4 linked regions of the Homo sapiens genome follow. The protein of the gene in region 2 interacts with the protein of the main gene of each other region in a pairwise test. Each region holds a gene or a part of one and is shown on either strand. Other genes may lie near its edges.

What was found.
Region 1: the proteins of RMDN3 (region 2) and EMP3 interact in binary tests that used the Homo sapiens proteins (3 or more experiments, as listed by UniProt).
Region 3: the proteins of RMDN3 (region 2) and TMEM100 interact in binary tests that used the Homo sapiens proteins (3 or more experiments, as listed by UniProt).
Region 4: the proteins of RMDN3 (region 2) and GIMAP1 interact in binary tests that used the Homo sapiens proteins (3 or more experiments, as listed by UniProt).

Annotation. Positions count from the first base shown.
Region 1 is NC_000019.10:48,320,554-48,329,136, forward strand, and holds the start of EMP3 (epithelial membrane protein 3), read left to right. Parts: upstream 1-4,998; 5' UTR 4,999-5,057; intron 5,058-5,437; exon of another isoform or gene 5,438-5,500; intron 5,501-6,276; 5' UTR 6,277-6,291; coding exon 6,292-6,369; intron 6,370-6,967; coding exon 6,968-7,070; intron 7,071-8,583. UniProt on the Homo sapiens protein: Probably involved in cell proliferation and cell-cell interactions.
Region 2 is NC_000015.10:40,735,151-40,739,555, forward strand, and holds the end of RMDN3 (regulator of microtubule dynamics protein 3), read right to left. Parts: intron 3,427-4,405; coding exon 3,351-3,426; intron 2,893-3,350; coding exon 2,815-2,892; intron 2,577-2,814; coding exon 2,478-2,576; intron 2,192-2,477; coding exon 2,138-2,191; intron 2,055-2,137; coding exon 1,974-2,054; intron 1,445-1,973; coding exon 1,391-1,444; 3' UTR 737-1,390; downstream 1-736.
Region 3 is NC_000017.11:55,719,865-55,728,398, forward strand, and holds the start of TMEM100 (transmembrane protein 100), read right to left. Parts: upstream 3,001-8,534; 5' UTR 2,755-3,000; exon of another isoform or gene 2,749-2,754; intron 1,272-2,748; 5' UTR 1,207-1,271; coding exon 802-1,206; 3' UTR 1-801. UniProt on the Homo sapiens protein: Plays a role during embryonic arterial endothelium differentiation and vascular morphogenesis through the ACVRL1 receptor-dependent signaling pathway upon stimulation by bone morphogenetic proteins, such as GDF2/BMP9 and BMP10.
Region 4 is NC_000007.14:150,710,792-150,720,057, reverse strand, and holds the start of GIMAP1 (GTPase IMAP family member 1), read right to left. Parts: upstream 3,446-9,266; 5' UTR 3,368-3,445; intron 1,017-3,367; 5' UTR 1,011-1,016; coding exon 968-1,010; intron 11-967; coding exon 1-10. Other genes in the region: GIMAP1-GIMAP5 protein, read right to left, coding at 1-10, 968-1,010. UniProt on the Homo sapiens protein: May regulate lymphocyte survival. Required for normal levels of mature T-lymphocytes and mature B-cells.

The sequences.
Region 1 (8,583 bases), on a different chromosome or scaffold from region 2:
TCTCCCACACCTCTCCAGCCCTCCCACCTCTCACACTCTGGGTCTTGCGTCTAGGCTCCGATTCTGGCGCGGGTTTGGCAGGGGACAGGCCTCCTGGGCTCTCAGGATATCTGAGGCCAGGCTGTTTGGTCGCAGGAGAGGGGGAAACCCCGGCCTGCTGTAGTGGGGGTTGGGCAGGGTCGGGGGAGTCCTGGGCCCTACCTGCCGACGGGCCTGACCTGTTCTTGGTGCTCCAAGTTCAGTGTTGTGGTCTGGTTACTGGGGAGATAAGGGACCAATGAGGACTGAGGACAGCGGCCAGGGAGGGACTGAGGCCGCGGGAGAAACTATGGGAGGAGGGGCGGAGAAGGATGCGAGGCGTAGACCTGCAGGGTTCCCACGGACTGAGAACTGATGGGCAAGGCCAGGCGCGGTGGCTCACGCCTGCAATCCCAGCATTTTGGGAGGCCGAGGCGGGCGCATCACTTGAGGTCACGAGTTCGAGACCAACCTGGCCAACATGGTGAAACCCCGTCTCTACTAAAAGTACAAAAAATTAGCCGGACATGGCGGCTCGTGCCTGTAATCCCAGCTACTCAGGAGGCTGGGGCAGGAGAATCGCTTGAACCCGGGAGGCGGAGGTTGCAGTGAGCCGAGATCCCGCCACTGCACTCCAGCCTGGGCGACAGAGCGAGACTCCGTCTCAAAAAACAAACAAACAAACAAACAAAACTGATGGGCGGCGAGGTCCTGAAAGGGGCGGAGCCGGGAGGGCCTGTGGAGCGGTGCTGCGGAGCCCTGAGAGGTGCACGGCTGTGAGGCCTGAGAGGGGCGTGCCGTAGGGAGCTGTGATGGGCGGGGCTGAGACCTGTGAGGAGAGTGAGTGGGAAGAACTTCGAGGGGCGGGGCTTCGGGGCCGGCGAGGGGAGGGGCACGGACACCAGTACAGGACGGGGCTTCGCAGACAGCGAGCGGAGGGGCTTCCCCGTAAGGGGCGGGCTTCGAGGGTCGCGTTTGGAAGGCCTTACGAGGGGCCCGGTGGAAGGGCGGTGAAGGGCGGGCTAATCGGGAGGCGCTCAGGCCTTGAAGGCCTGCGGGAGGTCGAAATGGTCCTGGGGAGGTCGAGGCTGAGGTCTCACTAGTACCGCGGGCCTGGAAGCGGCGGGAGTTGAAAGAGCCTGCGGTGACCTGTATGGAAGCCCTCGAAGCCAGGCCGAGGTCCTACAAGACGGAGCCCGAGAGGTGCCGGTCTTAAGCTGACTGTGACCACGTTAAATTAAGGATTCATAGGAAGGAAGGCGGTGTCGAAGCCGGGAGTTGCGCGGAGAAGGAGCGCTCAACACAGCCTCAGCGGTTCACTACGCAAGCGCGACCAACGGCTTCCCGGGAAGCAGCCAAAAACGCTTGGCCGCCTACCACGTCCGCGCGCTGGAGGGCGGAAGTGGGTGAGACCTCGGGCACTCCATACCGCCCCCCGGTTTCTGGCCACGCCCCCTCTGGTTACACCCACTCGCTCTGTAAGGCACGCCCCCTCCGCGGCGGCGGCTGCTGCCCACGTGGGCCTCCCCGGGCGGGCGGGCAGTGGGCGCCTCTCCCTGCAGGCTGGGTGTGCCCGAAGCCTGCGGTTTCCTGTGGGAGGAAGCGGCCTGCGTACGCTCAGCTCAGCTCATAATCTCGGAGGCCCAGGATGGGGAGATCCCGCCGCCACCCTCAGATCCTTTGATTCTTCCCCTTCTACATAGCCATAGTGCGGGGACCCCCCTAATATCCCCAGGGTACCCAAGCCTGGCGCCGATCCCACTCAGGGAACTTGATTCTGAGTCCTAGACTCGTGTTTTTCACCTCCCCGGCTCAAGTTTCCATCTTCCTAGCCCCTGGCTCCCCCTAGTCCTCTCAAGAAAGTGGAGCCCTCTTTTCCTGCTCCCCAAGAGGAACGTATGTCTCCCCAGCCCCTAATTTTTCCTTCAGTGACCCAGACTTTGCAACTTCCTTAGGGATCTGAGTGCGGACCCCAGTTTCTGTCTCTCAGGCACTTAAGTTTGAGACTACTTATTCTCCCCCAGGGACCCTCATTTTGGATTCCCAACTTTAGCCTTGAGACCCAATGGACCCAAGAATTTGCCCCTTCCCCAACTCCTAGAGATCCTGAATCAGGGTCCCCCAGTACTGACTCCACTCAGAGCCCCAATGCCTGATATGACTAGCACTACCCTAAGAACTGCCCTATAATGTATTTACTATTATCTCTATTTTTCAGATGAAGAGACTGAGGCATAGAGAAGTTATTAGTAACTTGCCAAAAATTACACAGCCATTGAGTAAAACAGCTTGGATTTTGAGTCCAACCAGTGTGGCTCTAGAGTCTGTGCTATACTGGTATTCCAGCTTCCAGGTCTTGGGGTACCCAGCCAAGCACTGAACTGTCCATCCCTCACCCCCTCAGGGAGCCCGAATCACCAACAGCTATCCCAAACCCAGCTCTGGCCCATCAGATACCCAGACATCCCATCATCCAGTTCCCTTCCCTGGATCCAGGATTTGAATTCCCCTGCTCTCAATTTATCAGAGTTCTGGGCACCTGGTCCCCTCCCAAGAGACTCGTGTACATAGTAGTCATCACCCCGACCCTAATTTAATATCCCCAAAATTAATAATAATAGTTAACAGTAAACCTTTGGGGCCAGGCACAGTGTCTTACGCCTGTAATCCCATCATTTTGGGAGGCCAAGGCAGGCAGATCACTGGAGGTCAGGAGTTCGAGGCCAGCCTGGCCAACATGGAGAAACCCCCGTCTCTACTAAAAATACAAAAATTGGCTGGGCGTGGTGGCGGGCACCTGTAATCCCAGCTACTCAGGAGGCTGAGGCAGGAGAATCGCTTGAACCGGGAGGTGGAGGTTGCAGTGAGCTGAGATCATGCCACTGCACTCCAGCCTGGATGACAGAGCAAGACTCCATCTCAAAAAAAAAATAAAAATCTTTGGTACTACACTCTGTTAAAACCTAATGGCTTTCCACTGCACTTAGAATGAAATCCAAGCCCCTCCCCTAGTCTTCAAGGGCACCCTTTGATTTCCCTTCTCACCACTCCCTCTGTCTCCCTGTGCTCCAGCCACACTGGCCCTTCTGTCTGCTCCCTAAACAACCTGAGCTTGTTCTCAAAAGCTTTAAGAGCTTTTGCACTTCCTCTCCCCCCGACGCCCCCCCACCACTCCCCAACCCCAGCGTTCAAATGACTCCTGTCTTCAGCTCAAATGTTACCTCCTCCAAGAGGCCTTCCCTGATTTTCCTGTTTCAAGTAGTCTTCCCTGCACTCTGTCATTATCTCCATCACTCTGTTTGATTTATTATTGTATTTATTTTTCTTTTCTTCTTTTATTTTTTTTTTTCTTTAAGATGGAGTCTTGCTCTGTCACCCAGGATGGAGTGCAGTAGCGTGATTTCAGCTTACTGCAACCTCCGCCTCCCGGGTTCAAGCAATTCTCCTGTCTCAGCCTCCTGAGTAGCTGGGTTACAGGCGCCCACTACCATGCCTGGCTAATTTTTGTATTTTTAGTAGAGACAGGGTTTCACCATGTTGGCCAGGCTGGTCTTGAACTCTCGACCTCAGGTGATCCTCCAGCCTTGGCCTCCCAAAGTGCTGAGATTACAGGCATGAGCCACCACGTCCAGCCTATTGTATTTATTTTTCAAGTCACTTATCCTTATCTGAGATTTATCTTCATCATTGATGTTTTCTCTTGTCTGTCTTCCTCTACTAGAATACAAGCTCCATAATACCAGCAGGGCTCATGTCTGTTTTCATTATTAACTCCCAGATCAGAGTACATGTTCAATAAATGTTTGATGAAGGAAGGAACAGGTTAGGTGTGTGAGTGTGCCAGTATTACCTTATTCATTCAGCATAAGTATCAGAATTATTATTATCAGTATTAGTATTTTGTCAGCATTATTATACTCTCAACATAGACTAAGATACTGGAGCCCAGGTGGGTGAAATAATTGGCTCAAGGTCACTGAACCAGGAAATGATGGCGCTGGGATTCTTAGCTTCCGCTTCCTCCCCGCTTCCAGAGTTTCACAAGGTTTTTTTTTTTGTTTGTTTGTTTTTTGTTTTGTTTTGTTTTTTTTTTGCGACAGAATCTCACTTTGTCCCCCAGGTTGGAAGGCAGTGGTGCAAACTCAACTCACTGCAGCCTCCACCTCTCGCGTTCAAGCGATTCTCATGGCTCAGCCTCCCAAGTAGCTGGGATTACAGTCGCCCGCCACCACGCCCGGCTAATTTTTGTATTTTTGATAGAGACGGGTTTCCACCATGTTGGCCAGGCTGGTCTCGAACTCCTGACCTCAGATGATCTGCCCGTCTCGGCCTCCCAAAGTGCTGGGATTACAGGCGTGAGCCACAACGCCCTGCCGAGTTTCACAAATTTCATCTCCCATCCTCTGACCCCCCACCACGGGGCCAACTTCACCAGCCCAATCTCAAGTCCATGCCACAGAAATCTGGCCTCTTTTCCCAGACTCCTATCCAGCTCCAAGCTCCATCAGGGAAAGCAGACATCCGGCCCCAGGGCAAGACCTCAAAACTCAAGGGTCCTGAGAATCGGGCCCTCCCACCCCTGACGCTTGCCCCCCCCAAGAACCCCATTCCAAGAGTTTCTCATCTCAACCCTGGGAGGGAGCCCCAGATGATGTCTGTCTGGAGGGATTGGGTGGGGGCCCAAAGAAAGAGGAACCGGAGTGCCTGGGCCCTCCCACTGGCAGCCGACCTCAGCTGGGTGCGGTGAGGGTGGGTTTATAAAAGGGTCAGTATATATTGAGAGGAGGAGAGAAAGAGAAACGGGAGCAAGAGAGAAGGAGGCCCAGACAGTGAGGGCAGGAGGGAGAGAAGAGACGCAGAAGGAGAGCGAGCGAGAGAGAAAGGGTTCTGGATTGGAGGGGAGAGCAAGGGAGGGAGGAAGGCGGTGAGAGAGGCGGGGGCCTCGGGAGGGTGAAAGGAGGGAGGAGAAGGGCGGGGCACGGAGGCCCGAGCGAGGGACAAGACTCCGACTCCAGCTCTGACTTTTTTCGCGGCTCTCGGTAAGTTTCCAGTCCGTTATTCAGGGCTGGGACTTCTTAATTTACTTGGGAATGTAGCAGTTTGGGAAGGACACCCCCAGGCTGGGAGAGACGTCCCTGACTCTTGGAAATCCTTTTAATTTAATAAGTGATCTCTTAGCACTTGAGGTGGGGATATGGGAAGGGGTGGGGCCCGGCAAAGTTTTGGGGTCCCAGCAGAGCCCTCCACTGGAAAACTTCCTGCAGTTTTTCCCTCAGCGGTGTCCACTGTCCTCTGGGGTCCCTGAGATCAGGGCATTGCATGAGAACACCCCAAATCTGGGAGACCTCTAGGTCCCCTGTTCCTGGGCACCAAAGAGTCCTGGGAGGCTAACTCCTTCTTGGGCCTCTCTTCCCCCCAGCGCGAATCCTATCCATTTCCTCCAGAAGATGTCCAACAGTCACCAGTCTGGCAGCAGGGTGGGGTGAGGACCTCGTGGACATAGCCAGGGGCTGGGGTTTCCCTGGTGCTTAGAGATGGGGGGGGGTGGGGATGAGTCACCAGATGACTCACCAGGTCCCCCTCCTCCCCTCAACCCAGGAGAGGAGTGGTGTGAGTCAAGAATGCCTGTTGCTGGGGGCAGCTCCTCAATCCTGATGTCGGGGTGCAGGGTGGGGTCTCAACTTGAATTTTCACTATCTGGCCTGTATGTAACCCAGAGTCAGGGTTCTGGGGAGAGAGGAGCCACATTGCTAGTCCTCCTCATTCAAGGAACCCAAGAGTCCATCTTTGGCCCTCTCCACCCCTCCAGCCAATGGGGATCTCAGGAATCCAGGCCCCAGCGGTCTCCTCCCTGAGAGACCCAGGAGTCTGCACCCATGCCCTTCCTCCATCAGGAGACATCTCACCTGCCTTTATGCCAAATTTTTTTTTTTTTTTGAGACGGAGTCTTTCTCTGTCACCCAGGCTGGAGTGCAATGGCATGATCTTGGCTCATTGCAACCTTTGCCTCCTGGATTCCAGTGATTCTCCTGCCTCAGCCTCCCGAGTAGCTGGGATTACAGGTGTGCACCACCACACCCAGCTAATTTTGTATTTTTAGTAGAGATGGGGTTTCACCATGTTGGCCAGGCTGGTCTCGATCTCCTGACCTCAGGTGATCCTCCCGCCTCGGCCTCCCAAAGTGCTGGGGTTATAGGCGTGAGTGTGCCTGGCCTGTGCCAACCTCTTGAGACTCCGTCCCCTGCTCCCCCTCCCCAGGCTTCCACTGCAGCCATGTCACTCCTCTTGCTGGTGGTCTCAGCCCTTCACATCCTCATTCTTATACTGCTTTTCGTGGCCACTTTGGACAAGGTAAGCCTACTTGGAGCTCAGGGCCCTTCTGTTCCCCTTTGGAATCTTGCCACGCCCCTCCTCTAAAGGCATTCTGGCCCCACCCCCTTTACCTAGTATTTCTTTTTTATTTTATTTCATTTATTTTGAGACAAGGGTCTCACTCTGTCCCCCAGGCTGGAGTGCAGTGGTGCGATCTCGGCTCACTGCAACCTCGGCCTCCCGGGTTCAAGCGATTCTCCTGTCTCAGCCCCCCAAGTAGCTGGGATTAGAGGCACCTGCCACCAAGCCCGGCTAATTTTTTTATTTTGGTAGAGACGGGGTTTCACCATGTTGCCCAGGCTGGTCTCGAACCCCTGGCCTCAAGTGATCCACCTGCCTCGGCCTCCCACAGTGCTGGGATTACAGGCATGAACCACCAGGTTAACCCTTTTAGCTCTACCTCCGATGCCTCCTCCCTGTCCTGACCCTACCCCCTCTCATATTAAATCCTAACTCTCCCCAGTTCTGCCCCATCCCAGATACCCTGCCCTTTTCCCAGCCCTTCCCACAGTCTGCCTGACCCTATCCCCTCTCCTTTCCTAACCCTGCCCCTTGTTTCGTTCTCTGTCCATCCCAGTCCTGGTGGACTCTCCCTGGGAAAGAGTCCCTGAATCTCTGGTACGACTGCACGTGGAACAACGACACCAAAACATGGGCCTGCAGTAATGTCAGCGAGAATGGTGAGGGGTGAGGGCGGCGGGACTGGTCTTCAAAGGGGAAGGTAAACCCTTCGTGTCCTCATGGGACTGAGAATTGGGAACCCTCCCCCAACAAAGTTGGAGTGGGCGGGGTCCAGGCCTGAGTGGCTGAGTGCCTAGGGCTAATGCATGTCCCGCCTGTCTGGATGTACCTACCTCTTGTTTTTTTTGTTTTTGTTTTTTGAGACCGAGTTTTCCTCTGGTTGCCCAGGCTGGAGTGCAGTGGCGCAATCTTGGCTCACTGCAACCTCTCCCTCCGGGGTCCGAGCAATTCTCCTGCCTCAGCCTCCCGAGTAGCTGGGACTGCAGGTGTGTGCCACCACGCCTGGCTAATTTTGCATTTTTAGTAGAGACAGGTTTCACCATGTTGGCCAGGCTGGTCTTGAACTTCTGACTTCAGCTAATCCACCTGCTTCAGCCTCCCAAAGTGCTGAGATTACAGGCGTGAGCCACCACATCCAGCCAGTACCTCCTGTTCTGAAGAGGCCATATAGATAAAAGCATGCTATAGGTTTAAAGAATAGAGAGGGGAGGCCAAGGCGGGTAGATCACGAGGCCAGGAGTTCGAGACCAGCCTGGCCAAGATGATGAAACCCCGTCTCTACTAAAAATACAAAAAAATTAGCCGGGCATGGTGGCGTGCGCCTGTAGTCCCAGCTACTTGGGAGGCTGAGGCAGAAGAATCGCTTGAACCCAGGAGGTGGAGGTTGCAGTGAGCTGAGATTGCACTACTGCACTCCAGCCTGGGCAACAGAGCAAGATTCTGTCTCAAAAAAAAAAAAAAAAAAAAAGAATAGAGAAAAATCTCCCAAGATTCTGAGAAGACAAGAGTATTTTTCCAAAGCTCTAAGGAGATGGGGCTGGTGCTCTGAATGGATGCCTGGGACCATTTCATCCAAATTCCAAGGGGATGGGGCTGAAACCACTTAAGGTTCTAAAGGGGTGGGGCCAGGTGCATTGGAGTTCTAAAGGAATAGAGCTGCATCTATCTAAAGTTCTGTGTGAAAGATTTAATGCAAAACTAAGATTAAAGGAAGTGGTCTGCTCTCACCACTTCTATTCAACCTTTTACTGGAGTAGCCAATGCAAGAAGGCAAGAAAAAGAAATAAAGGGCATGGGAAATAAATTAGGAAAAAGTGTCTCTATTCCCAGTAAACATGTTGTTTATGTAGAAAATCCATTAAAATTCTGCAAAGCAGACAGACACAGTGGCTCACACCTGTAATCCCAGCACCTTGGGAGGCTGAGGAGGAAGGATCACTTAAGCCCAGGAGTTCAAGACCAGCCTGGACAACATAGGGAAACCCTGTCTCTACAAAAATTTAAAAATTACCCAGGTTGTGGTGGCTTGTGCCTGTGGTCCCAGCTACTCAGGAGGCAGGGGTGAGAGAATTTCTTGAGCCCTGAAGGACGAGGCTGCAGTGAGCCATGATTATACCACTGCACTCCAGCTTGGGCAACAGAGCAAGACCTGGTTTCAGAAAAAAAAGAAAA
Region 2 (4,405 bases):
AGGCTGAGGCAGGGGAATTGCTTGAATCAAGGAGGTGGAGGTTGCAATGAGCCAAGATCGCGCCACTGCACTCCAGCCTGGGTGACAAAGCGAGACTCCAGCAAAAAAAAAAAAAATCTGGGTTGGTATAATAAAGACACAGTGACATTCTAGATTAAGGGGTTGGTTCTTATATGAAAGCATCTCAATCTTTTTTTTGAGACAGAGGTTTGCTCTTGTTGCCCAGGCTAGAGCGCAAGGGTGTGATCTCAGCTCACTGCAACCCCTGCCTCCCAGGCTCAAGTGATTCTCTTGCTGTAGCCTCTCTAGTAGCTGAGATTACAGGCGTGCGCCACCATACCGAGCTAATTTTTTCTGTCTGTATTTTTAGTAGAGATGGGGGTTTCACCATGTTGGCCAGGCTGGTCTCAAACCCTTGGCCTCAAGTGATCCACCCGCCTTGGCCTCCCAGAGTGCTAGGATTACAAGCAACAAGCATGAGCTACCACGCTCGGCCTATGCATCTCAGTCTTAAATTTTCTTCTAGGTGGATTTAGGGGTTTGTGCTCGTGGCCCTAAAAATGAACATGAGAAAGGCAGGGAGTACCTGCTTAGTTGCAATAGGCCTTGTTTAGGCTAAAAATAAGCTCGATACCTGTATTTTATATACTGTAAAGAGCATTAACCATAACCTGCCTGCAACAGCCTCTGTAGGTAGAAACAATTATGGAGGTGTCAAGTAAGAATAAAGAGCTGATAACATCAAATTTGGTTTATTTCAAGTTTGTAACAAAATATATTCTAGGCAACTTTTCAGACATTGTTTTATAGCATCATAAACCCCATACCACTGCTGTCATTCCAAAAGCTGCCAGGACACTGGAAGTTATCAAGTGGTCCAGCCCAGGAATACAGGTAGAATTCACATGATAGGTGATAAGAAAGCAATGTCTGTGGGCCACTCTGATCCCTCTTTTTACCTTGGTAGGTAAGGTATGATCTTAAGACTATATGTACTGAGTCCTATTAGTCAGTGAAAAAGATTAAAGTGACAAGTTATGTGCTTTGTTCCTATAGCTTTGAAGTTCATCCACCTCACCAGCAATTGGAAGGTCTCAGGTCTTGCAGGCTCTACCCATGTGTAATCCTGGGGCAGGTGTGAATCTTGATTTTTTTAAGAGATTACTCAAGGGAGAGAACAACAGAAACGGAAGCCATGAGTACTGCCCCAATTCTAGATTAGGTTAGAGGTTAGAATAAATTAACTAATGGGGAGTGGTAGTGGGTAGCAGTCAGACCCAGGAGACAGATTTGTGTGGTTTCCTGATCTCAGCAAGGTCTAAGGAAAAAAGCCTCCCCGCCCCCCCACCTTAAATAGTGGCATCAAGTCATGAAGGCCAGTGAAACGTGGTTAGTCTCGTAAAATGACTTCCAGTTCTTCCAGGTCCTTCTGGATAGCCAAATCCTAGGGAGACAAAGAACAAATCTAGGGCTCAAAATTTAAACCAGCATTTTCCCAAACCAGTGGAACCTAAGAAGAGGGGCCCTTTGCTTCCTTCCTGAGCTCTGCTACAGTCTTTTTCCTACTTCCCCAGGATAGCCTGGAGCCTATTAAATCTGTCTCTTCCCCTAGAGGTAGACTCTTTTTTACTAGGGAAATAAGACCTCTAGGAAAGATTATTTTCTAAAAATGTCACATGATGATTCAGTGATGACAGGCAGTTTTGTTTGGTTTTTTTTTGAGATGGAGTTTTGCTCTTGTTGCCGAGGCTGGAGTGCAATGGCACGATCTGAGCTCACTGCAACCTCCACCTCCCGGATTCAAGCGATTCTCCAGCCTCAGCTTCCCGAGTAGCTGGAATTATAGGCGTGCGCCACTAGGCCCAACTAATTTTGTAATTTTAGTAGAGATGGGGTTTCTCCATGTTGGTCAGGCTGTCTCGAACTCCCGACTTCAGGTGATCTGCCCAACAGGCAGTATTAAAAAGCCTTACCTCCTTCGTGACATCTGGCAGCTCCAGGGCCAACTTCATCCACCATCTAGCTTCAGAGTTTTTCCCTAGTTCTCTGTAGCACTGAAAAGAGACAACAGTGAAACCTGATACTGTGTACTTTCAGGAGTTCCCAGATCTATGTTGAAGTAGACAAATGAGTTTACCTTGGAAATATATACCCTTCCTGCTTTGGAAAATCCTGGCTGTAGTTCTTCAGCCTGGGAAAAGGGACAAAGATATTTCAGTAAGAGGTTCCTATATTCTAATCAGGCTGAAGTTTATTAAACTAGATTTCTAGTCCCCAACCATGTGGCTGATTCAGTGGGTCTGAAGAAACCTATATTTTTGATAAGCTGTGCAAGTGATTCTGGTTTTCCCATAGAACAGGCAAACACAAAATTGCCCCCGACTAGGAAAACCCCTCCCATTAAGGGTCTCAATAATGTCCTTAGGAAAAAACAAGGTTACCCTGGTGTTTTTGCCTGCCACCTGCCCCTCTCATACCTTTAGGAAGCTCTGGAGGGCATCTTCCACAGTGGCACTGAGAGGGCTTTCAAGCAAGGCTGTAGCAGTTTTTTTTTCTAGCCAGCTCAGGTGAGAGACCTGCCACAAAAAGATCAAGGTGTGTATAAGAGGTTTTAAAAGGTTTTTTTTCTTTAAATCTTTGGGGATATATTGAAAATAGGGTCAAACGGGGCTGGGTCGAACCACCAATAATACGAGCATTCAGAAGAAAGGGCACCTGAGCCAGAGAAGGCTGAGGATCTTGTTCTTCCTGGCAAGGAAATCGGTGTCAGAAGGCATTTAGGACCATTATGTCAAGCACTGAAACGCAGCTTACCTGATAGCACCACCTGCCAAGAAGAAAGTGAGCCATGGGGTTTTCTGGCTGGAGAGCAATGGCTTTGTCCACATGCTCCTAAGGGGAAAATGTAAATATAAACTAACATCAGACACCAGAGTTGCTAAAAGAGAGGCAAGGGCCGGATGCAGTGGCTCATGCCTGTAATCCCTGCACTTTGGGAAGCTGAGGCAGGTGGATCACCTGAGGTCAGGAGTTCGAAACCAGTCCTGGCCAACATGGTGAAACCCCATCTGTGCTAAAGATACAAAAATTAGCCGGGCATGGTGGTACATGCCTGTAATCCCAGCTACTTGGGAGGCTGAGGCAGGAGAATCGCTTGAACCCAGGAGGTTGCAGTGAGCCAAGATCACACCACTGCACTCCAGCTTGGGCGATAGAGTGAGACTCTGTCTCAAAAAAAAAGAAGAAAGGCAAGTCACTGAGGCTGTAGAAAAGTTTTTGGCAGGGAGCTGGAAAGGAGTGGGGAATCTGGGATAGGCCAGCACAAGGAAGGAGGAAAAGCCTGTCCTCACCTTGAAGCTAAAGCCACTCTGGATGCGCCTCTGGATGCTCTCATGCTCAGCCAGCTGACCACAAAGCACCGCATACCTAGGGGGGAAGCAGCAAGCTCAGGGACAAGGGCTGAGTACCATCACTGCAAGGAATGGATGCCCCAACCACAGCCTAGTTGCATTGTCCCCTATCCCTGTACCCTCAACTAGAGCTGAAAATACCTAATTTTCATCTGTACGTAATCCCCATTCTTTACGGACCTCTGGCCCCAATTAGTATTCTTTAGTAGATAATGGTAGGCTTACAAGTCTCCAAAGTATTCTAGGTATAAAAAAAGCTGGGTTCACCACAGTAAATCTCTCTTACACAGTAAATCTCTCCTACACTCATAAGGAGTACAGCCACAGGCATTAATAAAAACTTGAAAAGCATGAAAACAATCAGCATAAAAGTATGAGACCTGACTATACTACTTATCTTCTGGGCAGACAAAAAAGTGGGTCTCATTAGCCTTTAAGCATACAGGTGTATCACTGGGACTTGGGAAGCAATTTCTTAGGATAGTCACATTGGGAGGGGATATTCTAGGAATTTCTGATGTTACTTGGAAACCAACAGAACCAGAGGAAGAAAGACCTCCTATATATGCCTTCTCCCCCACATCCCCCCTCCCAAAGGGAACCAGCCAGCCAGCTTCCCATCATCTGTCTTCAGAAACAAAGTCTTACTTCCCCATCCCCCCAGCATTGTTCCTAGCAGCACAGTTGACATTCGATGAGTAACCAGCCCAAGTTGCTTTTTCATGTATATGCTAAGTATCCGGGGGGTATCAGATACTTCTAGAGGCTCATTTCCATGTTTAATCCAAACAGCTGTTCCTCAGGAATAGCTGTTCATCCTTGGAAGCCCAGGGAAGCAGTGACACCCAAGAAACAGTTACCTGGCCTCTGAGAAGAACCCTTGCAGAGACAAAAGTTTCAGCAACAGATGGAGAAACACAGCCTCTCACTTAGCTCACAGTCTGAGGGTGGAGACATGGAAAGCAAGGGTGGCGGTGGGAAAGGAAAGGAACATT
Region 3 (8,534 bases), on a different chromosome or scaffold from region 2:
TTTGGAACTGCAATAGAAATAACTATAGCAGAAACAACCATTTAAGAAGTTTTAGCAGCAATAAGTATTTATTATTCTGAATGAAATGTACAGTTGACTTTTATATAAAAATCATCAAAAGTGCTATATTGGATTATTTTACTATTAATTTAACCCCCAACAGCATCTATTAGCTATAACTTTAATGGGTTTTTCTTTACTTCTGATACATCATTACAACTGGCTAACACTGTCCAATGTTAAAATATAAAAAATATTACTTTTCAAGATAAAGTACCACCAGTGATGAGTTATTAAAAGTATAAAATGAAAACAGACGCCAGTGAATCAATGTATTGAAAAAAATTATCACAGAATTTCATAGACATATGCGAAACCCAAGGTAATTTAGATCCTTGGCAGAACATTTTTATGATACATCTTAAGACTGTAGGTTATTTCTTTTGGAGGCAAATGTCTAGTGTGCCAGGCCTATCTTGATTTTTCTCATCTTTTCTTGGCTACTTTACAGGGTGAACCAAATACTGTCTAATGCTGTGCACTCCCATGACCCCCAAAGTGTTTCATGTAAATAGAAAGCTGATTTTTCAGTCTCAGAAGTAGCCCTTAGGGTTAAGTTTGTCGTTAAAGAAGACATGAGTCATTCCTCACAAAGGAGAAGCCCCTCCACCCTCCCACCCCCATTCTTCCAGTCTGCTCCAACGCCAAGTCTGTTCTCTCCCACCATGGTTCTGGGTGAATTGGGTGACAAAGTCAGAGCACGTTTTCCAGGCCCAATGGCCCATTTGGTCGTATTCAGTCTCAAGCAAACAAGCTTCTCTGATTTGCCACGAGAGCTGTTTGACTCTCCCGTCTCTTGGCTTTCTTGCTCCTTTGTCTCACTTTCCAGCACAAGGCACTGGAGGCTAGTAAAAAAAGTCCAGATGACAGAACAACCAGGCCAAAGATGGAGATAATAGACCCATGGGAATTGAAGCTGTAAGCCACCGCGGTGACCACGATGCCGGCGATGAAGACAACCACAGCAAAGGGGATGATGCAGCGGTAGCAGGAGAGCTCGGTACCCCCTGTAGCAGCCATCAACTGAATCTCACTGACCAGAGGGACTGTGGTGATCACAACTTCACTCTTGGGGCTCTTCTCCATCGTCGCTGCCATGTGAGCCTTTGGGGCTCCCAGGATCTCCTTGATGGGCTCTTCAGTCATTTTTACAACAGTGCTTCTAAGCTGGGTTTACAGACTAGATCTGGACAGTCTCACCAGGGTGAAAGCTGTGAAGATAACAGGAGATGTCAGCTACATGTATCAGAATGTACACCCTGTAAGCAGAAATGAAAAGCTGGGGAGGCACCTCCTTTCTAGGAGGCACAGATCCATGTGAAAAGCAACTTTACTCTTTTTTTGAATTGGTTGCATTCTCTTTGCATTTAGGCAAAAAATAAGATGAAGCAGATGCATATGAAGGGAAGACAGAAAAAGCAGGAAGCACTTACAGTGTTTAATATACCCTGGCGGTCTACAAAAGTTTTACAAGCTTTTCTGCTTTGTCTATTGCTTCTCCTTCCTCTGAATACACAGAAATGCCTGAATCCTAATCCAAAGATGGTCTCATTCAAGAGGAGAATACATTACAAACAATATTTCGTACCATTAATCCCAGAACTTACAGCAACTCAGACTCCGCCAATCTTGCTGGGCATAACATGCATTCTTTGCAAACTATCACCCATTGGCTGCCCACAAAATCAATGTCAAGGCAAGTGGCCAGCAACAAATGATGTTCTTCTCCATTGAATGACAGCCAACAAATCTTTATTGTGTTACTATTAAACACAGTGCAACCTGCTCCCTGGGATCTTTTTATTACCCACTTTAGGTGGACAGTTCAGCAAAAAATTCATTGAAAATGAGGTGGGGATTTGTGGTCTGAAGTGTAACAATATCTTCCAATCTGCTATAAAAGAGAAAAAATAAGAAAAAAAAATTCAACCCCTTCATAGGATATAATTTTGTGCTTTCTCTTGGCAAAATAAAATCAATTATTTGAGTAATTAGCTGTCAATTCACAAATTTTCTATTAAGCTCAACACAAAATTTCGATATTATGTATACTACAACATGCAGAAACAAATAAGCATGCTAGGTTTTCAGGAAACTTTCACAACCTTCATTTTCCTCCATGCCTTTGTGTATAAAACTTGCTGCAATGACCCTTTCTAAGTATTTCGTACCTGAACATTTCAGGACAAAGCTTGAGACTTTTGATCAAAAGTATCTGGTTGAAATGCTGTCTATGAGAAATCAGTGAAAACTTGTCTGCTGCTCAGACATGGTTGAGTCACTGTCTTCCATTCTCAAAAAGCTGTCTAGCTGCTACACAGTTGAGCAGTTGTAGTTACCGAACAAGTTTAAAGAAAGATACTTGAGACCATTTCAATGAGATTCATACTTTAAATATATTAAGCATCCACTGAAAACAAATTCAACTCCAAATCAAACCTCACTGGTTCTTCCCTGCTCTGGAAAGTCAAAATATCACTCCCTGAGCAATGAAACTAAATCTTAGAGCTGCCTACTCACATGTCATTTTTAATCACCAAACTAATTAATCACTGTTGTCCAATGACACCCTAACTTCTGGTGAGGCCAGTTAAAAGATATTTGAGATTATGTCTGAAAAAAATAACTTCACCCCAAAGCTGAGATTGAGCTAACCTGAAAATCAAGATCTGTCCCCAAATTACTTACACTCACCTCGGAGAGAGGCAATCCATTACCAGAGTAACCACTTGACTTGGAAGACAAGAAACAGCAACGCCTGAGCCTCTTCGTCCAACTTCTGGGAAAGAGCCTCTAACAGCAAGGCTGTCAATAAAACAATAGGTTAGGGATCTCTTCTGGGGAAAGGAAAAGATGTAAAAATACTTTACTATAGGGTCTGCTCTGGTTTGGGATCCTGGAGTTCCTGCTTCTTTCAGGCTACCTCTGTTCCTAAATGACGCTTGTCTTTCCCTCCCTCTCTCTTTTTATTCCCTCCCCCTCGGGTTTGCCCCTCCCTAACATTTTTTTTTTTCCTTCGTTCTTTTCCTTGCCAGCAGATTCTGAGTTTTGGCTTCCCCCAGCTTTGCTCAGTGACATGATGAGTCCGAATCATTTCTACAGATTCCCCAGAGACAGGAGCCAGCTTTTACTTTTTCTCTTGCAGCATTTACTAAGCGGACTGCTTTGTGAATTTGAATGACTCATTTTTTCCCCCGCCGACCTCCAGATCTTCCTCCCGTCCATCAGGCATTTTTATAAGAAAATCCCAGAGTCAGCGTTGCAGACCCGGCTGAGGGGACAGAGCCGAGGGGACAGATACTCTAGGGTGGCAGAAACAGCTGTGAAGTCATCAGGCAGCTGAATTCAGTCTCTAAGCCAGCAAAAATCCATGTTCCTAGGTTTTCCATTATTCTTTATATGTGCGTGATAGTCATCTGAAGCTTAAAACCCCACTTGTTGAGTGTTAATTCATTTAGGAATGAGGGTGGGAGGCACAAATGTTTGTGGTTAAGGGGGAAAGCCAGTTATATTGATTTAAACATGATTGTTTACTGCTTTTGCAAGGAGGTAACTTTAGCAGCACCAAGATTATCATCATCATGATAATTGCTACCATTTATAGAGCACCTACTGTGGACATGGCACAATATTAAGAAATGTCACATATTAATGTTAATTCTCACTAGTTCATAAATGAGGAAACAGGCTCAGAGAGGTTAAGTAATTTAACAAAGATCACCCAGTAACAGAGACACCCTTGGTTTGAACCCTAATCTTTAATGGATATATATATCATTTGGGGAGATTGTTAAATTTAGATTCTGATTCAGTAAGTCTGTAACAAGCTCCCTACCTATGTTGAGACCTCTGTTCCTTGGCCCACTTTAAGGATCAAGGTATTTTAAACATTCAAACATATACAACTTGACACATCATACTTAAACAATAAAGTTAAACATCTATTTCCCACCCCATAAACCTGTAAGTGACTTTATAGGTTTATGCTTTCTTACAGACAAACTGTGAAATTTTTAAAACCTTGAAACATATAAAGCCCAAGATTGTCTTTTTGAGGAGAAAAGATAATACTGGGAGCTCATCCTACACTCTGTAGTTAAAAGTTTACATCCTCCATTTTTTCATCTGCACAAGTGTTAATAACCTCTTCTAATTAATACTGTGAACCACAAATCCAAATTAACTCTTGGAAGAGATTTGTTTTCCATCTTTCTCTCAAATTGTTAGATTTCTCTAATAGCTGGCAAAGGGCTTGGATGTTCTCAAACATCTCGCCTCTCCTCTACCACAGCACACTCTCTCCAGCCTTGCCTTGTAGCAATACCCTGATGACTTGTCACAAAAAGAGAGGGACCAGAAGTTGTTTATTCTGGAATGAAAGCCAGAGAGAGGGTTATGTCCTTATAAAAAATAAAGTTGAAAAGTCCCTGAGGTTGGGGGAGTCATGGCAAGTACCTGGAGGCCTTGGTCACCATGATCCTCACACTTTAAAAATGTCAGACCTAAAGAGACAGCTTTCATATCTGAGGAGTACCGTCACTTGGTGTTGAGGGTCAGGAATACTTAGAACCAGGGCATTTCAGAACTTGCCAAAGTTGCCCCCGGAAGATGGTAAGATGGGGGCCGCTGGCTACGTACAATGGAGGTTCTTGAGAAGCTCCTTAACAGAGCTGTCTTCTCACCTGCAAACTCTGGCCCTTGAGGGCAATTCCCCTCTATTTTCTAGTACCACTTTGCCTGCAAGATAGCCCAATAACTGCACTGAAGCTCTGAATATCACCTTATTCTGTTGAAAAGCATGCTTTCCTGTTACCAAAGCTAAAGGTGCAAACATTGAACGTCTAGAGAGAGGACAATGGCAGCTTTTTTCATAGTAAGCCCTTGACTGAGTCTATAATGAGGCGCAGTGAGTGTGTCTGTGTCCTAGGAGCACAAATCTGTCATCACTTCCAATACCAAAGCTTTCTTCAACCTTGTCAGGCTCAGGTGCCTCATTCACACCAATGCTCCTCCACAGGGTGTGTGCACCTGCCTTGATACACAGGTACACATCTCTAGACTCTGAGTAGACAACCAATGATTTGTATTTTAAATTCAAAGAGGTAGAAAGTTTTGGTATAAAGCAGACATTGTATCAGAAGAATAGAAGCCTGTCATCCTAACCACTGACACATGCAGCTTTAACTGACTTTACCTCTTCAAATTGAAATTCAAAGAGAATTCCTAGTGATCTATGCCTGTTGTTTCTGAATGTTTATTCCTCCTTCCACTCTGTGTCTACAAAGTATTAAACACCCCTGGGCATCCTTTGGGGACACCTGCCCCCAAATGCAAAATTTCATCCACAATGCAACCAGCCTTATTTCTGCGAGCCCTCTATTTTCACAAAGAAGAGGAAATCTCTCTAGTTCTTTCTAAAGCACATGGCTTTAGGAGACTCCTTTAAGTTTGGAGAACTTTTCTCAAAGCCTCCAATGCATGAATTATATCTATGCCCCTAACCCCCATAGACATTCAACATTTCCTTCCCAGATCTTTCAAAAAGCAAAGCAAAGATCCTTACCTTTCCCAGCCAGAGTTAGACTGAGACAGCTGCCTGCCCTGCCAAGAGCAACCCAGACAGGGGGATGCAAATCACCACATTAGGGACCGTAAACAAAGTACTCAGCAAGGCTTAAACACAATTAAGGGACCGGAGACAATTTGGCAAGAGGAAATCCCTTAAATGCTGCTGGATTTTACTCTGTTGTCCTCCATGAAAATGTAACCCATATATATGTGTGTGTGTGTGTGTGTGTGTGTGTGTGTGTGTGTGTGTGTGTGTGTATACAGACAGAGACAGAGAGAAAGGGCATCAAGTTTGAGAAGAATATCTTCCTTCACTTTTCTCTTTTTATATCTTTATTCAGGCACTAATTTGCAAGGTTTTTCCTATCCAAAGCCCCCATTCTGATGCTCTCCCTCTGTGAATCAGAACCTGCAGAAAAGAATTCGTAATCTTTGCTCTACATTTCTAAGGGAGTATGGGGTTGGAAAGTGTGTATGTAGGGGAATGGGACCATAAACCATCCTCTTTCCCAATAACATGCAGGTAATAAAAGGAGTACAAGGAAGATTAGGATTAGTGGTGAGAATGGCATTTGGTGCCTGAGTGGACCCTCTCCCTAATGTCAGAGGAGTGGTCCTATTGGTGCTCTTCATTGGAGGATGTCAAGGCACCATAGAAATTATGTTATACTGAAAAATCACACCTCCGAGGTGACCTTCCACCAAAGGCATTGTAAACGGCAGAGCTGGGAACATTTGCTGTTCCAGAGAGAATGCCCCAAATTGCAAAAATCTCATTTTTTTTTCTTTAGAAACAAAATGAAAGACAAAGTTACTTAGGGGAGAGGGGTCTGGGAGTGGAGGAGGGCAGGGAGCATGGTGTGTACTATGACAAAGAGGTCATTTTGCCCATTTCCCTAAAGTGGAAGCCAAAGATTCAGGCTCTAAGGTTGCAAAAGGGGATGTTTTGATTTTCCTATTGAGTTTGTGCTGTTGAAGACCTGGCAATTTCTCCTCTGGGAACACATGAAGTTCGCATTTTGTGAAGCATGCCCCCATGTGCATTTGATTACTCGCCTGTCTTTATTTCCAATTTGCTTTTGCTTGGTGTGTTTGAGCTGGCTAATTTCCAGCAGCCTTGAGGATGCCAGTTCCTCTTGGCCTTCTGTCCAATCACCACATGCCTTTGATCTCAGTCATCACCCAGTCCAATTGGATGCAGGGAGATTTGGGAAGCTGGCCAGGTTTTCTCCTCTCTAATGCTTCTTTTAAGGGTGTGCCTGCATTTATGTTCTGAAATCATGGACATTTTGGAAAGTGATCTGTGCTTCTGTGTTCATTTTGGATAGCAGGTCATGTTATTATTCCTCCTTTTCTTTTTTTCTCCTCCAAAACACTTTTCTTTGAGGTCTAGGACATTAAATAGAGAGATCTGATAGTACCAAGAGGAACAATGAATGTGCCTTAGATATAAATCTGTATTTTACTAATTGGTGGTCAATTTCTAGGTATGGGAATCTCATAAGATCCATTTGAATATAGAAAGGGAAACATACATCTTTTAGATTCACATTACAATCCCCATTCTCTTACCCCATTTTGTTCTGAGTAACTATGAAAGGTCACATAAACATAAAAAAATAGAGCTGAGTAAATAATCTCTCACTTCAACAAGAACTAATTACCATTCTGGCCTCAGATGAGAAGAATTGATTTTCTTGTCTCAAAATCAGAATATACACCGAAACTCCTGCCATCCTGATACAACCCCATACATTTTGCATCGCATTTTATGTTTATGTACGTTATTCTTTGGAGGCCAAAGATGAGGAAGCCCGAAGTTCGAGAGTTACCTCAAAATGGGCTGACACTTTCTTTCCTAAGACAAATGCACACTCCTAGGGTCAGCCTCCCTTAGTGAGTGAGCTAAGGCTCACATATTCTGGGGCTTGCAGGAAACACACCATACTTGTTTTTTTTTCAGGGAGGAGAAGGGAAGGGATCACAATGACCTCACCCCTTTGCCACTCCTCCCTATACCTGATAGCATGGAGCCCTTTGGTGCTCGTTTACAGGAGAAATCTCCCCCTAGTCTCAGGTGCCAAATATCACTTGTCTTGGTCATAAAATTATGTACATAAACATTGTGTGGCACCCAGTCGACTCCTAATCGCTGTACAATTTCTAGGCTTTGACACCAATCTGATACTGGAAATTGGAAATCACCTCGCAACATGTAAAGTGTCCTAAAAACGGATAATCAATGGTATCTCTGTAAGGGTCAGTTAGCTTTTCCCCATTCCATAGTCACAGAGCAGAATATACTTACCGACCAGATTAGCCTTGTCTCAGTTAGGTAGCACTGGCCTTAAAATGACTGGCTCAGGATGGGCTCATCAGTGCTGGCCTCCTCCAGATAATTGAAAGCACAGTTTAAACCATAGGTTTTAAGTTGCAGGCTTGGTAAGAGGAGCATGGAGGATATTTTTCACAAGTCACTTTTTAATTTTGCTGAGAAAGAAATGGGGAGGGAAAAAAAGAAATGGAGGTTCAGAGACTGGCCCTGTTTCTGGGTTTAACTCCAGAACCTGGGCTCCTTCCTTCTGAACTGACGCACACAATGTGCTCAGTTTGAAGAGGAAAGGGACACATTAACACAAGCATCTAACATGTACTACCCATAACACAGTCATCTCTCAGGTATTTGTATTTTATTTAAAGTGGCAGAGCCAGGTTTCAAATCTAGGTACCTCTTTCTTCTTCTATGTTGTGTTGTGAGGAATTCATTTTTAAAATTATATTATGTACATTTTCCTAAGTTTAGCTTAAGTCTCATTTTCTTGGGTTCAGGGTGATATCCTCTAACTAGATTTAGTTTGGGAAAAGTGCTCTGAAAAGGGGTGCCTACTGCTTCTAGAATGATTAAG
Region 4 (9,266 bases), on a different chromosome or scaffold from region 2:
TCTTCTAAACCTGTGAGACCAAGTGTTATAATCTTACTTAAGTTTAACCAACTTCCCCTTGGGAACTGGAATCTTCTTGCCTTTAGCATAAGTGGTTAAGAATAGAGATTTGAACGCCTGGGCGTTCATTTCCACCTTTTCCTTTTGTATTTGGGTTGTCTGCCTGCACCAGTAGATGCTCCAACTACAGTTGATTATCATAGAAATGCTTCTTTATCAGTCCAGCCCAATAGTTCATCTGACATTTCTGGTCATCCACACACATGCAGACATATTTATTTCATATTTGAAAATTTCGATGGACTCTGAAATATTCTCCCAGAGACCATCCCCAGAGACAGGCAGTGGGGGCAATACTGCCTGGTAGTGAAGAGCTGTGTGGAGTCCCAGATACCCTGGTTTGAATCACAGCCCCACCACGTGCTGGTTGTGTAACCTTGGGGAAGCTGCATAATCTAAGTATTAAGCCTCTTCGGCAAAAGTGGGAGCGATAATAGGGGCCTGTTTCTCAGAGGCCTGTTGAGGGGGTGAAATAAGCCCTCTTTCCTTCTTCTCTCTTTCTCTCCCTCTTTCTCTCCTTCCTCTCTTATCTCTCTCTTAAACTGGCTGCCTAAAAAGAATATATGTTTTAACCCTCTATCCTTGTTCTCTAAACATTCTACCTCACAAATCATGTTCACTGTAGTGCATGATTTAATCCCCTCTGCACTTCTTCTGCGGTGATCGGAGTAGGTTTATTATCCTTATTTTATACTGTGGAACCAAGGGAGCAGGCTAGTCACAGAACTTAACTTCTCACAGCAGAGATCCAGCTAAAATGCAGATCTCAGGGCTGGTGCTGTTTCATCCCAGAGTTGAGACACCTCTGGAACTTATCTCTGTTCAGTCTTGAGGAAGCCCCATTCTCCTTATTACCCTAAGTTCAAGCCTAGGGGGGCAAGTATGAGGTGTAGAGATATGGTCTTACCATAGACATTTTCTTCATCTGTCGCCATCTTCCTTCCTCCCATGCTTACCTGGAAGAGTCCCAAACACAATTTGTTAATTCATTTATTTATTCCTCAAATAGGCATAACCACAAATAGGCATAACCACCTACAGGGTGTCAGGCAAAGTCCAAAGAGCTGGTGACAGCACAGTGAAAAGACATGGTTTTTGCTTGCAAGGATCTAAAAATCTAGGTGTATGTCTTGGCAGAAGGGCACGTGGCTAGAGAGAAGACAGGTAAATTTCGTCAAATATAATACATTGTGCTAATCCTTCTTTAAGTAAGGATTATATCGGAACTTGAGAGAATGGCCTTGGAAGGGCCAACACCCTGCCCTTGAGTTGGTAGGATGCTGTGAGAACATTGGGTGAGGCTAGATTTGTCTTTTCAGGAACTCCAAAAGCAAAAAGCAGAGGGTCGGTTATAACATTTACTCAATGCCAATGGGCTTTAGGTATTACTTTTCCCTGGGTGATTCTATATCACTGACATAAGCTAGAGATATCAGGGGATTCAGCAGCTGGGGGAAGATTAGGTAAACCCTCAGAACCAGAAAATGTGCCCAGTGACTTAGGCACCCACCTTCAAGTGGCTGACCTGGGAAGAAAGAAGAAAATTGGGATTTTTCTTTTGGAAATTGAACAGATCTCCCAAGTAGATCTGGAGGGCCCCTAACTCTGTTTTCTTAAAATCAAATAATTTGGTTTGTTTAGAGATGTCTAAATACGATATCTGTGCTGGAGAGACTTGAACACTTCCCTTCAACTCCTGAAGTTGCTTCCCCTCCAAATGTGATTATGCTGAAATCTAACATTGTGTAATACAGCTAAACCCTCTGTGATCCAGTTTGCCTAATCACACAAGCTCCTGAACACAAATTCACTTCTCCCTGCATCTATGTCTCCAGCCTCATTCCCAGACAATACCCCACTCGGTCAGCTACTTCACAATCAGCAGATTTCAGGGCCTTTCCAACCCACTCGGCTTCCCCTCCTAGGACTATTGATCCTCCCCGACCATCTGTCTGTGCCTCACCATCCATGTCAAACTTGTTGTGTCTTGCACCCTGGTCACTTGGATACCTGTGTTCTCTCCCATTGGCACCACACATGAAGGAGGGGCAGAGAGAGAGGCTGGCTGAGTAACTTGTCTTTGATTGAAGGACTTGGAGAACAGATTTGCCTCATATTAAATCTAGAGCTGTTTCTGTTTCTGCAGGAACTCTACTGGCCCTCCCCAAAGCCTTCAATAAAATTCACTCCATGGGCCTTATGTGATTAATTATTTTGCATGTAGGAATGAACAGATGATCATAAATGACATCAAAGCAGAAATGAAGAAACAGTTGCAAGATTCAGAGAAAAGAATTTAGATGAAGCAAAATGTCCTTGTCAACCAAGAAAATGAGAATTTCTTTTTCCAGTGCTGCAGAATTCTGGATAGGCCTTTGGAATTTTCCATAGTTTAGAAGAGGGGTTGAAATGATTTTAAATAGTTTTTTTTTTTAAAGGAAAGTAAGACCCAGCTGAACTCTGAGGTGACAAATGGCCCTTAATCATTGAGGAATGTACACTTATAGAATCCTGTATTCCTAACACTTTAAGAGACCGCAAAGTTTATTGAGTTCTTCACCGCTCAAATGTGCTGCTTCTCAGAATTACTTGAATGTTCTTTAAAAATGTACATCTCTTGGATCCATCCTGAGATTCTGATTCATGAATTAAATGTTTCTGATGTCCACAGCTCAGAACTTGGACATCAGTCATTTTTGCAACCCCCTTTATTGTACAGATGGGAATTTGAGGTGTCCCCGTGGCTGGAGCAGGAGAAGCTTGAATTAAGGGAGCAGATGTTTAAGGGGCCATGCAGGGAAAGGGGTTGAAGACCAAGATATTAATCTCAGATGTCTCCTCAGGGGCCCCTTCTGTGGACAGTGAGGAGGAGAGTTCAAATGTACCCAGTCTTGTCACGTCGTAACTCACTCCGAGGTTAGATGGCTTATGGGGCCATAGAAATATCTTTTGCCTTTGCTCAATAGGGAGCTTGAGGAATGTTTAATGCCTTTCAAACTGTATTTTATTCCTGGAGGTGGTTCCAGCACACTCTTTTCTTACTTTGTTAAGGGAATGTGGGAGGAGACAGATTTCACTCCCCACCAAGAACGTGTGTGCTCCAGAGCTGGAGAAGATGATCCTAAAATTTCCTCTGAACTTTGCCTACTTAAAAACCTGGAAGTATGTCCTTGATTGTTCCAGATCTTGCTCGCCTGCATGATGCCTTGTAGAATGCAAGTGTTCAGGCAGTAAACACTCTAGGAATCATGTTCTTTCTGGTTCTCAGAGCACCCCCAGCCCCCGCCACTCCCAGGCTCAGGCTCACCTTTCCTGGTGACAGGCTCTGAAGTTGGCCACAAGAAGCCCCAACCTGCTGCTTTCCCTTCGGCTGTGAGTGCAGAAGGCTGTTTCCTCTCGGCACACGGAGGAAATCACTCAGACTTCAGAAATCAGGAAGCTCAGGGTGGGCCCCATGGTTATGGTTTAAAGAGACAGAAACATTTCCCATTGAGCTGTGGGTTGGCAATACTTCTCCTACCGACTCTACTTTCTGCTGTGACTGAGGTTATGTGTCTCCAGCAGGGCCTCATGATGTCAAATATCTTGCCATGCTCTAAGAAGGGAGGGATGTTGTAGTCTCTGAGGCCTGACTGTACTTCTAAAATTGATTACTGAGCTAATCTTCAGTTGCCTTTGCCCTATAGGGACATTTCCCCATATAAAATAGGCCCAGAGAGTCTCCTGCCCCGGAACAAATAACGTAATAGCTGTTCTCATCATCTGTCCATTAATTAGACATTCATGTGGCCAGTGCCAGCCCCAGATCCAGTCTGCCAGAAAAACCTGAAGGCAAAGTCTTATCATTCTCTGAGAGAGGAGGGCTTTCCCAGCTATTGAAGGACTTGAGGGTGAACTGGTATGTTGAGGATGAACACCTTCGCACTATCTTCAATTTAGCCTTATTAGGAGGCTTTAGTCTAGTCGTCTATGTTGGTATCACCAGTTCTAGTTATTCTATCTTCTCTCAAGAGCATCATGAGGTCAGCAAAAAAGCGAATCACTGGGTGGTAAGAAGGCTACAGAGGAGCAGGCTGCATATCTGGTTAGGTCATTAACCAGCTATAGGACCTCACCTAACTCATTTAAACTTTCTGGAGTTGGCTTTCTGGAGTATATGGGGAAGACAATAACCCGAGTCTTACCCTACTGGATAGGATCTGCTTTTTAACCTCTTTCATGCCAGACCACTTTTTTTCTGGTAGGGAAGAGACCCAGCTTTTACTGTTTCCCATCTTTTTGGGGGCACAGAGTCTCCTGGATATCTGACATGTCCACTGTTTCCATTCATCATTGCTGAAACAGGGAGCCTGTCATTCTCCCAGTAGACCGGCAGGGCTGGGGCTATTGTGAGGCAGGTGGGGCATCTAGAGCACACAGCTTAAGGAGGCACTCACTCTCAGGTCACCCAAGTGCAGATCTTGTAGGTGGGTGACCCTGGGAGTGAGTGTTTTCTTAAGAGTGAGGTGCCTAGGGCTTCTCACTAGCCTCATCCTAGCCCAAGCCACATAGATCAGCTTTGAATAAGTCTTTGATACTTGACGTGTACCTTTCATAAAGACGCTTTCAGAGCCTCTTCAACAGCTCCGGGCCATTTATTGTTTCCATGCATGTGTATGATGTCTTACTTCAGCCACTCATAACTCTCTGTCAGAGGGTTTATCTGACTACAAAAGTATATGTAGGTAATGCATGCAGCAGCCTGAAGTTGTCAGAGCTGATATCCTAGGAGCAGATTTCAATCAATGTCAGTTAGGACTTATGGATAAACACCACAACTTATCAAGTTGTCCACCACGTGAGACAACTCTGTGATGTACTGCATACAAATTGCTGAGTCCCCAGCAGGACTGAGACCCAGTTGTCTGCAGTGGGAACATCCTCATCACCGTATACAGTGGTAATGTGCTCATTAATGCAACTTGCATTGGCTACTATCCCTTCCCGTCCCACATTTCCACTTTCCTACTGGTGCTTTCTGGGATCTTCTTCCTATTGAAAAGTAACCGTTTCTGTCTTTATTTTCCTCTACATTTCTATTAGCTCTTGATTATGTCTCACTGTCTCTGGGCTTTGTTGCCTATTATTATTCATTGATACTTACTATCAGTTGTGGAAACCCAGGTGAAGCTCAGACCCTGACTACACTTGAGTCTCAGAATTATATCTAGAACTCCGGCTTCCTTTTGTACCCTGTATTAATGCTTCCTTCCTCTCTTTCCAGTCTTTGCATGTTCATTGTTTTCTTCCGTATCCTTATAAATGCAGTGAAGAAAATGTATTAGTCCGTCCTCACGCTGCTTTAAAGAAATACCCGAGATTGGGTAATTTATAAAGAAAAGAGATTTAATTGGCTCACGGTTCCACAGCCTGTACAGGGAGCATGATGCTGGCATCTCCTTGGCTTCTGGGGAGGCCTCAGGAAACTTACAATCATGGCAGAAGCCAGAGGGGAAGCACACACATCTCATGGCTGGAGTAGGAGCAAGAGAGAATGGGAAGGAGCTGCATACTTAAAAATTTTTATTTAATGTACTTTACATTCTGGGATACATGTGCAGAACATGCAGGTTTGTTACATAGGTATACATTTGCCATGGTGGTCTGCTGCACCCATCAACCTGTCATCTAGGTTTTAAGGTATTTGTCCCAATGCTCTCCCTCCACTTGCCTCCCCAACCCCCGACAGGCCCCCATGTGTGATGTTCCCCTCCCTGTGTCCATGTGTTCTCATTGTTCAACTCCCACTTATGAGTGAGAACATGCAGTGTTCGGTTTTCTGTTCCTGTGTTAGTTTCCTGAGAATGATGGTTTCCAGCTTCATCCATGTCCCTACAAAGGACATGAACTCATACTTTTTATGGCTGCATAGTATTCCATGGTATATATGGGCCACACTTTCTTTATCCAGTCTATCACTGATGGGCATTTGGGTTGGTTCCAAGTCTTTGCTATTGTGAACAGTGCTGTAATAAACATATATATGCATGTGTCTTTATAGCAGAATAATTTATAATCCTTTGGGTATATACCCAGTAATGGGATTGCTGGGTCAAATGGTATTTCTGGTTTTAGATCCTTGAGGAATTGCCACACTGTTTTCCACAATGGTTGAACTACTTTACACTCCCACCAACAGTGTAAAAGCATTCCTATTTCTCCACATCCTCTCCAGCATCTGTTTCCTGACTTTTTAATGATCGCCACTCTAACTGGTGTGAGACGGTATCTCATTGTGGTTTTGATTTGCATTTCTCTAATGACCAGTGATGATGAGGTTTTTTTTATATGTTTGTCACATAAATGTCTTCTTTTGAGAAGTGTCTGTTCATATCCTTCACCCAATTTTTGATAGGGTTGTTTGTTTTTTTTCTTGTAAATTTGTTTAAGTTCTTTGTAGATTCTGGATATTAGACTTTGTCACATGGATAGATTGCAAAAATTTTCTCCCATTCTGTAGGTTGTCTGTTCACTCTGATAATAGTTTCTTTTGCTGTGCAGAAGCTCTTTAGTTTAATTAGATCCCATTTGTCAGTTTTGGCTTTTCTTGCAATTGCTTTTGGTGTTTTAGTCATGAAGTCTTTACCATGCCTATGTCTTGAAGGGTATTGCCTAGGTTTTCTTCTACGGTTTTTATGGCTTTAGGTTTGACATTTAAGTCTTTAATACATCTTGAGTTATTTTTTGTATAAGGCGTAAGGTGTGAGGAAGGGGTCCAGTTTCAGTTTTCTGCATATGGCTAGCCAGTTTTCCCAGCGCCACTTGTTAAATAGGGAATCCTTTCCCCATTGCTTGTTTTGGTCAGATTTGTTGGAGATCAGATGGTTGTATATGTGTAGTGTTATTTCTGAGGCCTCTGTTTTGTTCCATTGGTCTATATATCTGTTTTGGTACCAGTACCATGCTGTTTTGGTTACTGTAGCCTTGTAGTATAGTTTGAAGTCAGGTAGTGTGATGCCACCAGCTTTGATCTTGATCTTTTTGCTTAGGATTGTCTTGGCTATACAGTCTCTTCTTTGGTTCTATATGAAATTTAAAGTAGTTTTTTCTTGTTCTGTGAAGAAAGTCAATGGTAGCTTGATGGGAATAGCATTGAATCTATGAATTACTTTGGGCAGTATGGCCATTTTCACAATGTTGATTCTTCCTATCCATGAGCATGGAATGTTTTTCCATTTGTTTATGTCCTCTCTTATTTCCTTGAGCAGTGGTTTATAGTTCTCCTTGAAGAGGTTGTTCACATCCCTTGTAAGCTGTATTCCTAGGTATTTAATATACTTTGTAGCAATTGTGAATGGGAATTCACTCATGATTTGGCTCTCTGTTTGTCTGTTATTGGTGTATAGGAATGCTTGTGATTTTTGCACATTGATTTTGTATCCTGAGACTTTGCTGAAGTTACTCATGAGCTTAAGGAGTTTTAGGGCTGAGACAATGGGGTTTTCTAAATATACAATCATGTCACCTGCAAACAGAGACAATTTGACTTCCTCACTTCCTATTTGTATATCCTTTGTTTCTTTCTCTTGCCTGATTGCCTTGGCCAGAACTTCCAATACTATGTTGAATAGGAGTGGTGAGAGAGGGCATCTTTGTCTTGTGCCAGTTTTCAAAGGGAGTGCTTCCAGCTTTTGCACAGTCAGTATGATATTGGCTATAGGTTTGTCATAAATAGCTCATTATTATTATTATTTTGTTTATTGTTATTATACTTTAAGTTTTAGGGTACATGTGCACAATGTGCAGGTTAGTTACATATGTATACATGTGCCATGCTGGTGCGCTGCACCCACTAACTCGTCATCTAGCATTAGGTATATCTCCCAACGCTATCTCTCCCCACTCCCCCCACCCCACAACAGTCCCCAGAGTGTGATGTTCCCCTTACTGTGTCCATGTGTTCTCATTGTTCAATTCCCACCTATGAGTGAGAATATGCGGTGTTTGGTTTTTTGTTCTTGCGATAGTTTACTGAGAATGATGATTTCCAATTTCATCCATGTCCCTACAAAGGACATGAACTCATCATTTTTTATGGCTGCATAGTATTCCATGGTGTATATGTGCCACATTTTCTTAATCCAGTCTATTGTTGTTGGACATTTGGGTTGGTTCCAAGTCTTTGCTATTGTGAATAATGCCGCAATAAACATACGTGTACATGTGTCTTTATAGCAGCATGATTTATAGTCCTTTGGGTATATACCCAGTAATGGGATGGCTGGGTCAAATGGTATTTCTAGTTCTAGATCCCTGAGGAATCACCACACTGACTTCCACAATGGTTGAACTAGTTTACAGTCCCACCAACAGTGTAAAAGTGTTCCTATTTCTCCACATCCTCTCCAGCACCTGTTGTTTCCTGACTTTTTAATGATCGCCATTGTAACTGGTGTGAGATGGTATCTCATTGTGGTTTTGATTTGCATTTCTCTGATGGCCAGTGATGATGAGCATTTTTTCATGTGTTTTTTGGCTGCATAAATGCCTTCTTTTGAGAAGTGTCTGTTCATATCCTTCGCCCACTTTTTGACGGGGTTGTTTGTTTTTTTCTTGTAAATTTGTTTGAGTTCATTGTGGATTCTGGATATTAGCCCTTTGTCAGATGAGTAGGTTGCAAAAATTTTCTCCCATTCTGTAGGTTGCCTGTTCACTCTGATGGTAGTTTCTTTTGCTGTGCAGAAGCTCTTTAGTTTAATTAGATCCCATTTGTCAATTTTGGCTTTTGTTGCCATTGCTTTTGGTGTTTTAGACATGAAGTCCTTGCCCATGCCTATGTCCTGAATGGTAAAGCCTAGGTTTTCTTCTAGGGTTTTTATGGTTTTAGGTCTAATGTTTAAGTCTTTAATCCATCTTGAATTGATTTTTGTATAAGGTGTAAGGAAGGGATCCAGTTTCAGCTTTCTACATATGTCTTGCCAGTTTTCCCAGCACCATTTATTAAATAGGGAATCCTTTCCCCATTGCTTGTTTTTCTCAGGTTTGTCAAAGATCAGATGGTTGTAGATAAGCGGCGTTATTTCTGAGGGCTCTGTTCTGTTCCATTGATCTATATCTCTGTTTTGGTACCGGTACCATGCTGTTTTGGTTACTGTAGCCTTGTAGTATAGTTTGAAGTCAGGTAGTGTGATGCCTCCAGCTTAGTTCTTTTGGCTTAGGATTGACTT